Linked DNA regions of Homo sapiens: all the other regions are reported to be linked to region 1. Evidence: microRNA targets listed by miRTarBase, many of them from high-throughput screens and not tested one by one. Region 1 holds a microRNA gene; each other region holds the end of a gene's coding sequence.

What was found. The annotated mature microRNA hsa-miR-193a-3p reads AACUGGCCUACAAAGUCCCAGU and lies in region 1 at 775-796, opposite strand. An mRNA with a match to its seed (bases 2 to 7 or 8) in the 3' UTR can be bound and repressed. Matches are read on the target gene's strand: a 7mer-m8 pairs with bases 2 to 8, a 7mer-A1 pairs with bases 2 to 7 and ends in A, and an 8mer does both.
Region 2: miRTarBase lists LYST as a target of hsa-miR-193a-3p. The part of its 3' UTR that is shown has no 7-base or 8-base seed match.
Region 3: miRTarBase lists CEP89 as a target of hsa-miR-193a-3p. The part of its 3' UTR that is shown has no 7-base or 8-base seed match.
Region 4: the mRNA of LPCAT1 is a reported target of hsa-miR-193a-3p. Seed matches in the 3' UTR shown: 8mer at 1,083-1,090.

Annotation. Positions count from the first base shown.
Region 1 is chr17:31,557,704-31,560,845 of GRCh38, reverse strand. It overlaps MIR193A (microRNA 193a), which reads right to left and starts at 850; the gene lies at 763-850. RefSeq lists an enhancer at 1,047-1,837 and a silencer at 1,579-2,068.
Region 2 is chr1:235,660,028-235,663,169 of GRCh38, forward strand. LYST (lysosomal trafficking regulator) reads right to left here. Exons shown (of 53, transcript NM_000081.4): 53 at 1,014-3,051. The coding sequence ends at 2,913. Among named protein-coding and RNA genes, the nearest start is that of GNG4, 12 kb to the left of the region's middle.
Region 3 is chr19:32,876,627-32,879,768 of GRCh38, forward strand. It overlaps CEP89 (centrosomal protein 89), which reads right to left. Exons shown (of 19, transcript NM_032816.5): 19 at 1-2,752. The coding sequence ends at 2,536. Among named protein-coding and RNA genes, the nearest start is that of SLC7A9, 8.4 kb to the left of the region's middle.
Region 4 is chr5:1,461,068-1,464,067 of GRCh38, forward strand. LPCAT1 (lysophosphatidylcholine acyltransferase 1) reads right to left here. Exons shown (of 14, transcript NM_024830.5): 14 at 360-2,768. The coding sequence ends at 2,584. Among named protein-coding and RNA genes, the nearest start is that of SLC6A3, 17 kb to the left of the region's middle.

The sequences.
Region 1 (3,142 bases):
CTCACTGCATGTCCCCAGATGTTTTTCCACGGCCAAGAGCCAAAAACACAACACAAACAAAGGACAAATAACCAAAGTTCCAACACCAGGCAAACCCGAGGTTTCAGGGGTTGGTGGGTTTTTGTTTTCGGGGAGTAGAAGCAAACGCACTAGAGGAATAGATAAGAGACTTTAAAGGAGAGTTTAAGGAATTCCAGCAAAAAACTTGAAGAGGACTAGAGTGGGTCCACATTATGTTGCATCGGTCAGGGAACAAAAGACCGGCCATTGGGAACACATCCACAAAGATCCATCTTTAATGAAATGGTGTTTGGGAGAGGAACAGGGGCTTCCTGCGCCACCGGGCCAAACCTCCGCTTCCCACCTCCCCAGGGGCAATTCTAGAAGTCAGGCCCCGTTCTCCCCACCCCCAAGCTCAAGGTTGCCGCCCTGGAAAGCACAGCAGGGCAGGCCTCGGTAAGTGGCAGGGCTTGGCCCATGGGTAAGCCGGGTCCCGTCTGTCCACTCAACCCAGGTCGCCGGGGCGCGGTCCACGTCTGCCCAAAGGGTACGGACCCCAAGCAGTGACCGACTCACACTTCCGAGAGCGTCGCTATTTCTCCAGCGAAGTGCGGGGATTTCCCGAATCACCGCACGCAGCCGGGGCGAGCGCACCTCACCACTCCTTCTCCAGCGTGGACCTGAGAGGCAGCCTGGCCGGAGCGCACGCCAGCCCGGGAGGAAGCCGGCCTGGGGCGAGGACCGGGGAGAAGACGCTGGTCCCGGGGGCCGAGAACTGGGACTTTGTAGGCCAGTTGATCCGACACCCTCATCTCGCCCGCAAAGACCCAGCCCTCAGCTCCCATCCTCGGAGTTCGGGGTGCGTCCCCGACGGGCTTCCCGGGGCTGGGTCCGGTCGCCGGCTCTGTGCACCGCGCTCCGCTCCGCCGAAGCTCTGGGTGTCCCTCAGGCGGCGTTCCCCGGGAAAGTCCACCGCCCCGCCCGACCTCGGGTCGCGGGCTCCAAACCCAGCCCTCCAAGGGTTACACGACGCTCGGCGGCCTCCACGCCACCCCCGGGCCGCCTCGGCTCAGGCCGAGGGACAGCGCTGGGGGAGGGGGAGGTGCGGGGACCAAAGCCTCCCCACCGCAGCCCCACTCCCGAGTGGGGCGCAAGAGTTATGCGCCGAGAAACTTCGCCACGCTCCCACGCCGCGCCTGCGAGGCCCAGCTCCGCTCTGCCTCGGTTACCTGCGCTCAGCTCGGCGGGCGAGGGGCGCGGGGCGCGGGGCAGGAGCCGTGGCCGACCTCTCGCAGCAGGCCGCACCCTCCCGCAAGGCCGAGCCCGCACCGCTGCCTGGGCACGGGGGCCATAGCCGCTAGCCGGGGCCCGCGCCCCGACGTTCCGGGAGCCCCTCGAACTCCTGGCCGGGGGCCGTGGCCTCGCTCGACCTGCCCGGGACCTGGGGGCCGCCGCCGCCCCCTCCGCTAGGAGAGCGAGCCCGACGAAGCCGGGAGAGGAGCGGGGCGGCGAGACCCCTCGAAAGTTGGGGGGGTCGGCTTGCTCGCCGCGGCCCGACCTGGCTCCACGTGCTGGTGACACATCAGGAAGGCTGCGCGCCCCGCGGCTCCCGGCGGGCGGACGCGGCCAGCGCCCGCCCGCACCGCCTCCCGGAGCCGAGCGGACGGCGCCCCGCCCCGGCCCGCCCTTCGCCCGCCCCTAGGCGGCACCGCCCCCGGCCGCGACGCCCGCTCCAGCCTGCGGCACCGGCGGGAGAGACCCTGACGGCGGTGGGGGGTGGCCCGGGTTCCCAGGTCCCGGGTGGCCCGCACTGCCCCGGGGATGGGGTCCCGACGCGGGCGGCCCTACTCGACAGTCTGGAGTGCCTTCCTCCCAGTCACGCAGTCCTTCCCGCCCCGGAGCCCAGTAATTTTCCCTTTTCCTCCTTTGACCCGTCCGAGCAGCTGCCAGCGCTTCCTCCCGCGGAGACCGGCGCGGGGAGCCCCCTGCCGGCCGCTCCGCTCCCGGGCCGCGCCCCCGCCCGGTGGAGCGCGCCTGCCGCCGGCCTCAACTTCCCCATCTAGAACCTGGAGCCGCCGGGCACTTCTGGCAGGGCTTTGGTGGCAAAGATTATAAATTAAAGTGCCAAGCATAGTACCGGGCAGCATACTTTCTTGAGATGTTAAAATTTCGTGCTTTCAACTCCCAGTTCCAGCGGCCTGCAGACAACCTCTCTTCCTGGCTGTGCTGTTTGAAAAGCTGAGTTCCTTTAGGGAGACTGTGGAAAAGGAGTGGGACAGAAAAGCTTTGAGGCTGAGTAAGAGCTGTCCCAAGATTAGCGAGGGGTGGGAGGTCAGTGGAATCCCCTTGGTGGAGACCTGCTGCCCCACTGTCTCTCCGGAGACGCCAGGATGTGGGAGAGTAACTGCGTGTCTCCTCTGGGACCTGAACCAGGCCTCTACCAAGATCCCCAGCCTCAAGATGGCCAGGATTCCAGGCACCGTGGGTGATGGGGAAGCCCAAATAACCACTGAGGTTGAGTTTCCCAACCTCTTCAGGTCGAGATTTGGAGCCATTTAAAGAAAATAACGTGACATATCTGTTTGTGTCCCGACATAGATATTAGCTATGTTCCTGCCTTCTCTTTCCTGGCCTCACCAACCCAGATCATGCCTTTAAATCTCACTATGAGGCTGGGCACGGTGGCGCACACCTGTAATCCCAGCACTTTGGGAGGCCAAGGCAGGATTGCTTGAGCCCAGGAGTTTGAGACCAGCCTGGGAACATAGTGAGACTCTGTCTTTACAAAAAGTTAAAAAAAAAAAAAAAATTAGCTGGGCGTGGTGGCACACACCTGAGGTGGGAGGATCGCTGAAGCCCAGGAGTTAGAGGCTACAGTGAATTATGATCGCACCACGGCACTCCAGCCTGCGTGACAGAGGGAGACCCTGTCTCTAAACTTCACTTTGGTAAGGGTTGAGTGGTATATCTGGTTTATCTGATCCCCACATCGGGATCCCTGGGTAGGACATGTCCAGGAGCTGGTGCTCCCAGGAGTGCGTAGCTGGGGGAGGGATGGCGGCCAAGCGCTGGCAGAGATGCCCAGTGCTGGGGCATGGACAGCGCTGGCCCCAGGCCTCTGTAATCGCCATTTTGTGGGAGC
Region 2 (3,142 bases), not on the chromosome of region 1:
AGGCGCCTACCACCATGCCTTGCTAATTTTTGTATTTTTAGTAGAGATGGGGTTTCATCATGTTGGCCAGGCTGGTCTCTAACTCCTGATCTCAAGTGATCTGCCTACCTCACCCTCCCAAAGTGCTGGGATTACAGGCATGAGCCACCACGCCTCACCAAAAATTTCAATTTTTCAAGAGGCTTTCTAGATCACCTCAATCTAAATAAAGTCCTTCCTCTTACATTCTTTCAGAGTACCCTATATTTTACCTAACACTTACCATGGTTTGTAACTGTACATATTGTGTGTTATTTATGGTGGTTTCTCCACCAGCCTGTAACCTCCAGGAGTGCAGGGGACCACCGTGCTTTGTGCAGCACGATATCCTCAGCACTTGGTACAGTGCCTGGCACCTGGCAAGGGCTCAATATAGATCTGCTGTGGGGTCGGGGGTGGGCAGATGGTTTTTTCTTTAAAATGAGCGGTTTGATCTTGGGACTAGTGTCCACACCATCTAAGGGTAGTAAAGGTTGAAACATAAAATTTTAGTACAAAAACCACAATAAGAAATGAAAGTTAGGCCGGGCGTGGTGGCTCACACCTGTAATCCCAGCACTTTGGGAGGCCAAGGCAGGTGGATCACGAGGTCAGGAGATTGAGACCATCCTGGCTAACACGGTGAAGCCCCGTCTCTACTAAAAATACAAAAAAAAAAAAAAAAAAAAAAAAAGTTAGCCGGGCGTCGTGGCACACTCCTGTAGTCCCAGCTACTTGGAAGGCTGAGGCTGGAGAATCGCTTGAACCTGGGAGGCGGAGGTTGCAGTGAGCTGAGATCGTGCCACTGCACTCCAGCCTGGGCGACAGAGCTAAACTACATCTCAAAAAAAAAAAAAAAAAAGAAAGTTATCTTTTTCTAGTGATATAAATGCATAGTGGAGCTAAAGACAGAACCTATGTGGGTTACACAGAAAGCCATCGATTTGAGATCTGCTCATAATATTTAAATAGCTTAAAGAAGAGGTGTTTACATCTATTTTTATGAAATTTATTTCCAAATTGAAGAGGCAGTGTATATAAAGGTAACAGAGCTTGTGATAATTTACAGAAATGTTTGCTACAACATGCACATTATGAAGTATTTCAAACATATACATATTAGGTTTCATGCTGAATAAATAATCCCCCCAAATTAATTTTTATTTTTACATAAAAATATAATATTGCACTCTTAACAAGACCAGTTATTCTGCATATTTTCTCTTTAGATAAATGATGAAATTCGGTTTTTAAAAAAAGATGAGTAGCAACCCTATTCTAATAGGGGACTAATTTAAAGTTCTCAGTAAAAAAATGAAAGCTAGACAATAGCTGCAATTTTTTGTTAACAAAGCAAATCACTTCAACGTGAATAGGAGTAATCTCATCTCTGCACCTCCATGGACCTCAGGATTCACACCTGGCCTGAGCACACGGTGATCTAAATGCAGCCTAGGTATCACTACATGTGTATGCAGTTTAAGGTTAAAGCATACATGGCCACGTGCTTTCTCTCGAATCTATCTTGACAGCAGAGACTTTGGAATTATATTTTATATGGTTTTTAAGCAGAATGTTTTAGAAAGTCTGGAAGTTACAAAAGTAGTACTGTAAACACCATATGAATTAAATTTCCATAACAAATGCACAAGTTATTCTTAGGCAGGGATACATATTTTTATCCCATGGTAACATATTACTGAGCTTATCTGACAGTGTTTTCAAAGCCAATAAAGCAGCACCCCAAGTAAAAATATACAGACAGCCATCATATGGGAGAGACAGACGGCTCCAAGATGTTTAGGAATTCTGTCTTTATGGTATGTAAGTTTGCTGTGGAATACACGAGATTTTATTATTCTTCCTAGAATTCTCAGATGGTATAGGTTAGTAGAAACAGAATGAAATGGTTTCCTAAAAGAATTATTCTGCCTCCTGTTTAAAGTAAGCTTTTATAATTCTGTTTTGGGGAAGAAAATTCTTCCTGCAGATTAGATCAAATGCCTTATTTAGGCTGTGTTCTTAATACCCATGCAAACTTCTTGCATACTGAAGGCTTTCTATTGCAAATTGGTACAGATTCAATGCTCTGTAAATAGCAGACTTTAAGACTTACCATTGTGTTTAAACCTCAGTGACTCAACTAAGGATAGTCAATATCTAGCGTTACAGATTTTAAGTAAAATTTTTATGAAGAAACAGAATGTGTCTGAAATCCAAGATACCTGTATTCTTGTTTGTGGCTGTCAAAAAAATTCTGGTTCTCCTTTGAGCTAAGAAAGCAACTGGCAAAAACTGCCTAATTTTGAGATTCATTCATAGTTTATTTTAGTATTTAGATATTCCATAAAATATTTGGTACAGAGGCACCTACTGAATAATTTGCTTCTCAAAGAAAGCAATTATCAAGTCCTAAAAATTATCTTTTTTTCTTTCCTCTTTTGGAGCATGTGTGTGTGGTGGGAGGAGTATTTCATGGCAGTAAACTTTTAAAATATAATTTTAGTGTGTTTTATATAAACAATCAACCAACCAATTTAAATTCTACTGGTCCTTTTGGAATCATAGAAAAAGGGGAGACCTTAATATTTTCTTTGGAATACCTTGGTGGGAAAAAATTTTAAGAATATCATTTTAATGTACCATGCGAGGCTTAAAACTTGTTGGCTAGTGCATATTGACACAATCTTCCAGATTATCACTAAAATAGAACAGAACTTTCCTCTTAGGATCATGTGACTCTTCAGAATTTTGTGCAGATGAATAGACTTTATCATTATTTGGATGGTTTGTCCAGTCATCCATTTCTTTAGGTTCAACCTCCTAAAACTGGTGAAGTCAACAAATCTAGTTTGGAGTTAAAGTGCTTTGGAGAACGTGAAGTTCATTCGCATTCACCCGGCTGCATAGCTGCTAAGGAAGGAATAGAACATTGGCTGTTTCAAGCGCTGCTGGTCCTTCCGACACCAGGCAATCACGGTCCCATCACTGTTTGCTGTGTACAAATGGTGGCCATCACAAGAAAATGTAAGGCTGTAAAAAAAAAAAAATTCCCATTTGTACATTATATTTCTTAAAAGTGTATTAGCATATTGGTCATCATACTGAGGTTAGTGTAAAGAAG
Region 3 (3,142 bases), not on the chromosome of region 1:
CACCCCAATGTTTCTGTCCTTTCCTGGAATCTCACAAGCACCCAGGTGCCTCTCTGCCTTGCCTGCCCCGCCCTCCTTGGCATCCTGGACTCGTGGCTTCTCTGCCCATTTCCTATGGCACCCAGCAGGAGGCTGGGCAGAAGATAGTGTCTGTGGGACACCTGCCCTTGCCCTGGTCACAGTGCCATCCAGGAGTCCCCATACTTGCAAAGTATGTTTGCACTGTGTGAAAAACTTAAAGCAGAAACATAAGAACAAAAGTGGACACTTCTCAAAAGAATAAAATGTTTGCATAAAAGGCAGAAAGACAGGGATGTCAACAGTGGTTCTCTAGGTCACGATGGCGGGAGCAGCATTCCTGCTGACAAGCACTCCTGCCCCGCGCAGCCACGCTGGGCTGCCGCCGCCTGTCAGCCTGTCTACAGGAGGCTGCAGAGCGGCCGTAAATGCCTTTGAAATAGCATCACAGTTATTTGTTAGGTCATCTCCTAGGGAGATGATACACAGTTTTCAATCCCAGTGAGTCTTTCTACCGCTTGTAAAATAAAATTAAATTACAATGATTCAACTGTTGAACAAGCTTATAGAGTCATAAAAGAACTATGATTTTCTATCTCACCCTTCCGTCTGGCAATCAAAGATCACACGTAGAACTTCTACACATGACCAAGGACCAGTACTGGGGCCTCCTTCCCACCTGAAACAAGGCAGGACTTCACTGCGAGGGGCTCTGAAAAGGAGATGCTGCAGGGTGCCACCCCTGAGTCCCACAGTTAGGGTCCTTTGTAGCCCAATGTCCCCAAGTCCCTCCAGCATGCCTGGGACTGAATGGTCCTGAGCGGCTGGGGTAATTTTCCTGAGGAGGTGGCACGTCATCTAACACACATGGGACAGAACCATGGCCCCCTGGTATGCTTCTTGGTGGTGGCAGTGGGGCAGGGACTCTATCTTAGCTCAAAGCCAGGGCTCTCATTACATGGGTGGGGAGCTGTGTGGCTCCAGAATCAATTACCTTCCCAGACCAGGCGCGGTGGCTCATACCTATAATCCCAACACTTTGGGAGGCCTAGGCAGGAGGATTGCTTGAAGCTAGACGTTTGAGACCAGCTTGGGCAACATAGCAAGACCCCATCTCTACCAAAAAAAAAATTTTTTTTTTTTGAGACAAAGTCTCGCTCTTGTTGCCCAGGCTGCCCAGGCTGGGGTATAATGGCGTGATCTTGGTTCACTGCAACCTCCGCCTTCCAGGTTCAAGCAATTCTCCTGCCTCAGCCTCCCAAGTAGCTGGGATTACAGGCACCCACCACCATGCCCAGCTAATTTTTGTATTTTTAGTAGAGATGGGGTTTCACCATGTTGGCCAGGCTGGTCTCGAACTCCTGGCCTCGGGTGATCCGCCTGCCTCGACCTCCCAAAGTGCTGGGATTACAGGAGTGAGCCACCATGGCTGGCCTACAAAAATTTTTTTTTTACAAAATTAGCCAGGCATGTTAGTGTATACCTGTCATCTCACCTACTCAGGAGGCTGGGATGGGAGGATCGCTTGAGCCTGGAGGTCAAGGCTGTGGTGATTGCACCACTGCATTCCAGCCTGGGTAACAGAGTGAGACCCTGTCTCAAAACAAACAAACAAAAGTAACAACTAAACAAAAGAGAATAAAGTACTTGCTCAGGAGGATAGAGAAGGGCTAGGGGAGAGGGCAGAAAAGGTTTGTACAACTTAGAGGGCATGAACAGCAGCAGCACCTTGTTTTTTTTGACCAAACAAGAAAAGGCCCCCAGAGCTCACGCACAGCTATCATCAGGGCCGGTGCCATGGCCTGGCTCCTCGGGTGACACTTCCCCATCTGACACATGGCACGAGGGCTCAGCTGCCCGCCCAACCCTTCCAGCACTTCCCAGCTGCAGATCTAGGAGCTGGAAGGCAGGCCTGCTCAGCAGGCCACCTACTCACCAGAGCAGTGGGTGTCATAGAACTCATCTCAGTGGCAATGTGGCCAGAGAACATGCCCTGGCTAAAACAGATTTCAGCAGCACGTTATTAAAATAAAGCACAATGGGCCAGGCGCAGTGGCTCACACGTGTCATTCCCGCACTTTGGGAGGCCAAGGCAGGAGGACAGATTGAGGCCAGGAGTTCAAGACCAGCCTGAGCAACATAGCAAGACCTCATCTCAACAAAAAAGAAAAAAATTAGCTGGGCCTGACAGTGCACACCTGAGGTCCCAGCTACTCAGGAGGCTGAAGCAGAAGGATCTCAAACATGTTTGAGGCTGCCGTGAGCTATGATTGCACCACTGTACTCCAGCATGGGCAACAGAGTGAGACCCTAGCTCTAAAAAAAAAAAAAAATTAAAAAATAAAGCAAAATGTTATCAATGGATTAAACTATGAGACCATTTATTTCTTCCCTGCCCTGCAGCGTTCAGTGGGCTTACGCACCTCCGGCTGCCACCATGGGCTGCCCTGCAGGGAAGGCCTGTGTGAGGCAGACCTTTCAGGCCAGAGGAGGCTACACCACGGGCTCCCGCAGATTCTAGCAGGTGGGGGCATGAGACTTCAGGTCATAGGAGCAGACATCGCAGCCGTCCAGCAGGTCTGCCTGAGAGACGCCATTGAGGCTGGGGGCAACCAGAGCTCTGGGGTTGTCCTGCACGCCTGTCCTCGTGAGTGTGTCCTGGAGAAGTTCTCGGATTCTTCGGTTTTCCCTGAAGGTAGATTCCCAAATAACTTCAAGTTCACCTTCCATTTCTCTGAGGGAAATAAGTTTAAAATGGCACAATTTTAAAAATAATATAGAGCCCATATGAATCCCAAAGTAGCAAGAACTCAAAACAGAAGAACGCTATCAGCAGGGAACAGAGCCCTCGGTGCCTGGGTTCTGAAGCAAGCGCTCAGTGTGGAATGAAGCAGCTGGTGCCCTGGGAATGGGGAGCAGCAGGACAGCCCAGGCTGGGGCTCAGTGTGGAATGAAGCGGCCAGTGCCCTGGGAATGGGGAGCAGCAGGACGGCACAGGCATTTCTCTTCCCTCTATGTTCTGCCCTTGACTTTGGCGCCAGTGCAATCCCTGTTTTCTCTCAAGAATGAACTTGGGCGTGTCGAATAAGGAACTGCAGGAACTGCAGGGCTGGCCTTGGCCAGC
Region 4 (3,000 bases), not on the chromosome of region 1:
CTAGTTCCAAACCTTTTACTGACTCAGTAGGACTAAATGCCAGATCCATTTTTCTCTCTGCTTGACAAAACACGCTTAAGGTGCATGTGCTTAAAATTGAGAAATTACGTAAGTCAACCCACCAGGCAGGCAGCCAGCCATCCATGTTTCAACTCTGTAAGATGTCTGCTACTGTCCGCAAAATACCAGAACACTCCGGAGCGTCCCTTTGCCACCAAGACAGCTTTTTCTACAGAATTTCAATTCTTGTGTTTTCCAAACATGCTAGAACCACACCAAGAAAATCTCATCTGGATTGGCTCTCCTCTCACAATGCCTGTTGTTGTCTTTCTAATAAAGAACCACACAAAACAACATCATTCCCAAGTATAGACTTTATGTTTTACTTATTCCATTGAAAATCCCAAGTTCCTTCATGGCAACCCTCCCTCTGCCCTCACACCCCAGCAGGTCCCCGCAGGCCAGGGCCCATGCCCCACCTGCCCACGGGTCTGGCCCCCAGGCCACCAGGGGCCCGCTGCGTCCTGTCTCACACACAAGGGGTTTAACTCAACGCTATGTACATTCACAGTTCCGAATATCCGCCAACTCTAAGTCGCCACGAAGAGAAAAGAGAATCAGGAGGAACAAACATCCATTCAAAGTCTGTTTATCAGAGATTTTTTTTTCTGAAAATGCACAGTGGCATTTCATTCAAAAAACCCTTCATCTGCAGACCTGCGGAAGGGAGGTGGCCTGGGTCCCTTCCCTCGGAATATCTTAGTTTATTTACCTCCTTCATTGGCCATTTGCAGGCTCTTCTCCTTGAAAAATGAATCTTTACGCATTCTCCAATTATAAAATCAGTGACTGTTAGCTACCAAAGGCTGCACTAGGATTTCTTCTGTGTCCAACACGCCAAGAGCCCTGAAATTGACTTCGGTTTACTCCATCCCTGTCTGTCCTGCTGGCAGTGTCCATGCTAAAAAACAAGTCGAGGTGATTGATTGAAACGGAGCTGAAGGTTGTTTTTAAATGTCTGTCAGTGGAGAAACGCGTATCACGAATCTCTGAGGAAGTTAGTAAACATTTTTTCCCGTACTTACTGGCCTTGGTGGTCACTTTCTATAGAGATGCCCCAAATATAAAAATCAATTCATTTCAGAAATCAAAAAAATTTTCCAAACAAACCCGGAGCCTTTGCTTTAGGAAGCAAACTCAAGTCTGTGATGATTATTGTGCTTGAAGGATGGGTTTCTAATTCTGTCATAAAAAATGATGAAACAAGGTGATGTCAGAGGGACTTCAGGTGACACCAAAATACCCCATCCAGGGCCTGGAAGCCCCTCTGCCTTTGACTCTAAGATGGGGCAGGACCCCCGCTCTCAGTGGGATGTGCCCGCGACCCTGGCGCTGGGAGGCAGTGCTGCAGAGAGGAGTGGTGTCCGCACGGCTGTCACCAGACATCCTCATCACCCTCCGCACCGCACAGCCCAGCGTCTCCTTCCACAAGCAAAAGACTGCGGCTCCTCTCTCTGCAGGAAGGTCAGCCATACTCGGGTGGCAGCGTGACGCCAGTCACCATGGAAACCAGGGCTGACAGGAAGATGCAGCCGCTTCCAGCAGGGACCTGGCCTGAGGGCAAGGGAGGAGCGGCACGGCGGCGGCTGCCTTGCGCTTCCAGCTCGGGCCCTGCTCATTTGAACAATATCCAACCTCGGACTGGAGTTTAGGCTACAGTGAAATGGATTACGTTATGCCGAAACAGAAACATCAAACTGCCAACGTTTATAAAAAAAGAGGGGACTGGAAAAGGATTAAGAAAAGCAGAAAAAGTGTTTTGGGGCTAGGCCCTTGAGTTCACACCTCCCCAGGGGACCCAGCGGAAGGAGAGGGATTACCTGCTGGAGAGAGGCCTGATGGAAATTTAAGTCAAAGCCCAAACAGCCTCAGATTCTATATTAAAAAAAAAAAGGCCTATAAATAAATATCCTTTGACTCTAAAAGGAAAAATGAAGTAGAAAAACAATTTTCATTTTTTAAAAAATGCTGCATGTTTCCTGAAGTACCTAAATGGAGTTTATAAAATACTCATGAGCTCCAGCACACAGGTAGAAACACTGAAAAATCAGGTGACGGCTCGGCTCTGCCAGGCTGTGGATCCACAGAGGCAGACAGGTTTCGTGCCAGAGTGACACGCAAGCGCACGCTGTGTGGCAGGCGTGTGCTGAGTGTGCACGGAGGCCCGCCCGGTGCACGCTGCCGCCGGAAGAGGCTGTGACAGAGACTCGAAACCAGGGCCCCGTGGGAGAACACGGGGCGGCACCGGTGCCCCCCGCCCGGCAGGGAACCTGACCCCACGGGGTCCAGGCCAGGCGGGGGATCCGCGTGCGCGCCCTCCGATTCTCGCACAGTAAGCGTCGGTTCTGCAACACACTTCACAAAGGAACAAGATACAAACAGCCCCCGAGGCCCCTGGAACTCGGGCTGAAGACAGTGCCTGTACAGCAGGAGTGAGGAGCGGAGCCCAGAGGTCACTCGCAAAGAGGCTCATGGCGGTGATGTCCACGCGGGAGGGGCCGCGTCTCTCCGCAACCCTGGGTCCTAATCCAGCTTCTTGCGAACAGGCTTCCGCCCAGCGTCTGAGTTTTCCGGGCTGAAATCGGCACAGAAGCCGTTTGGGATTGGCGCAGGTGAGGTCTCTGCACAGCTTTCGAAATGTGTCTGATCCGGGTACAGGTATTCCTCTGCGAAGGCAGGGTACATTTCTGCAAACCTGTGGAAGTCAGCTGGAAAGACAAAGGCACCTGTGGTTATGGAATGGGGACGAGCAAATGTCTAGGATTTGGAGGCTCTTTTCCCACGGCCCTGGTGGGTGTCCACCTCACGCCCTCCAGGGAGGGTTAGAATCGTCTGTGAAACGGATGCTTTCAGGGTGGAGAGAAGAACTTGCGCTTACTTTCTTTGCAGCGCACGAAGTCACCCTGACAACCGGGGCAGGCTGGGTGTCCTCCTAGCTAC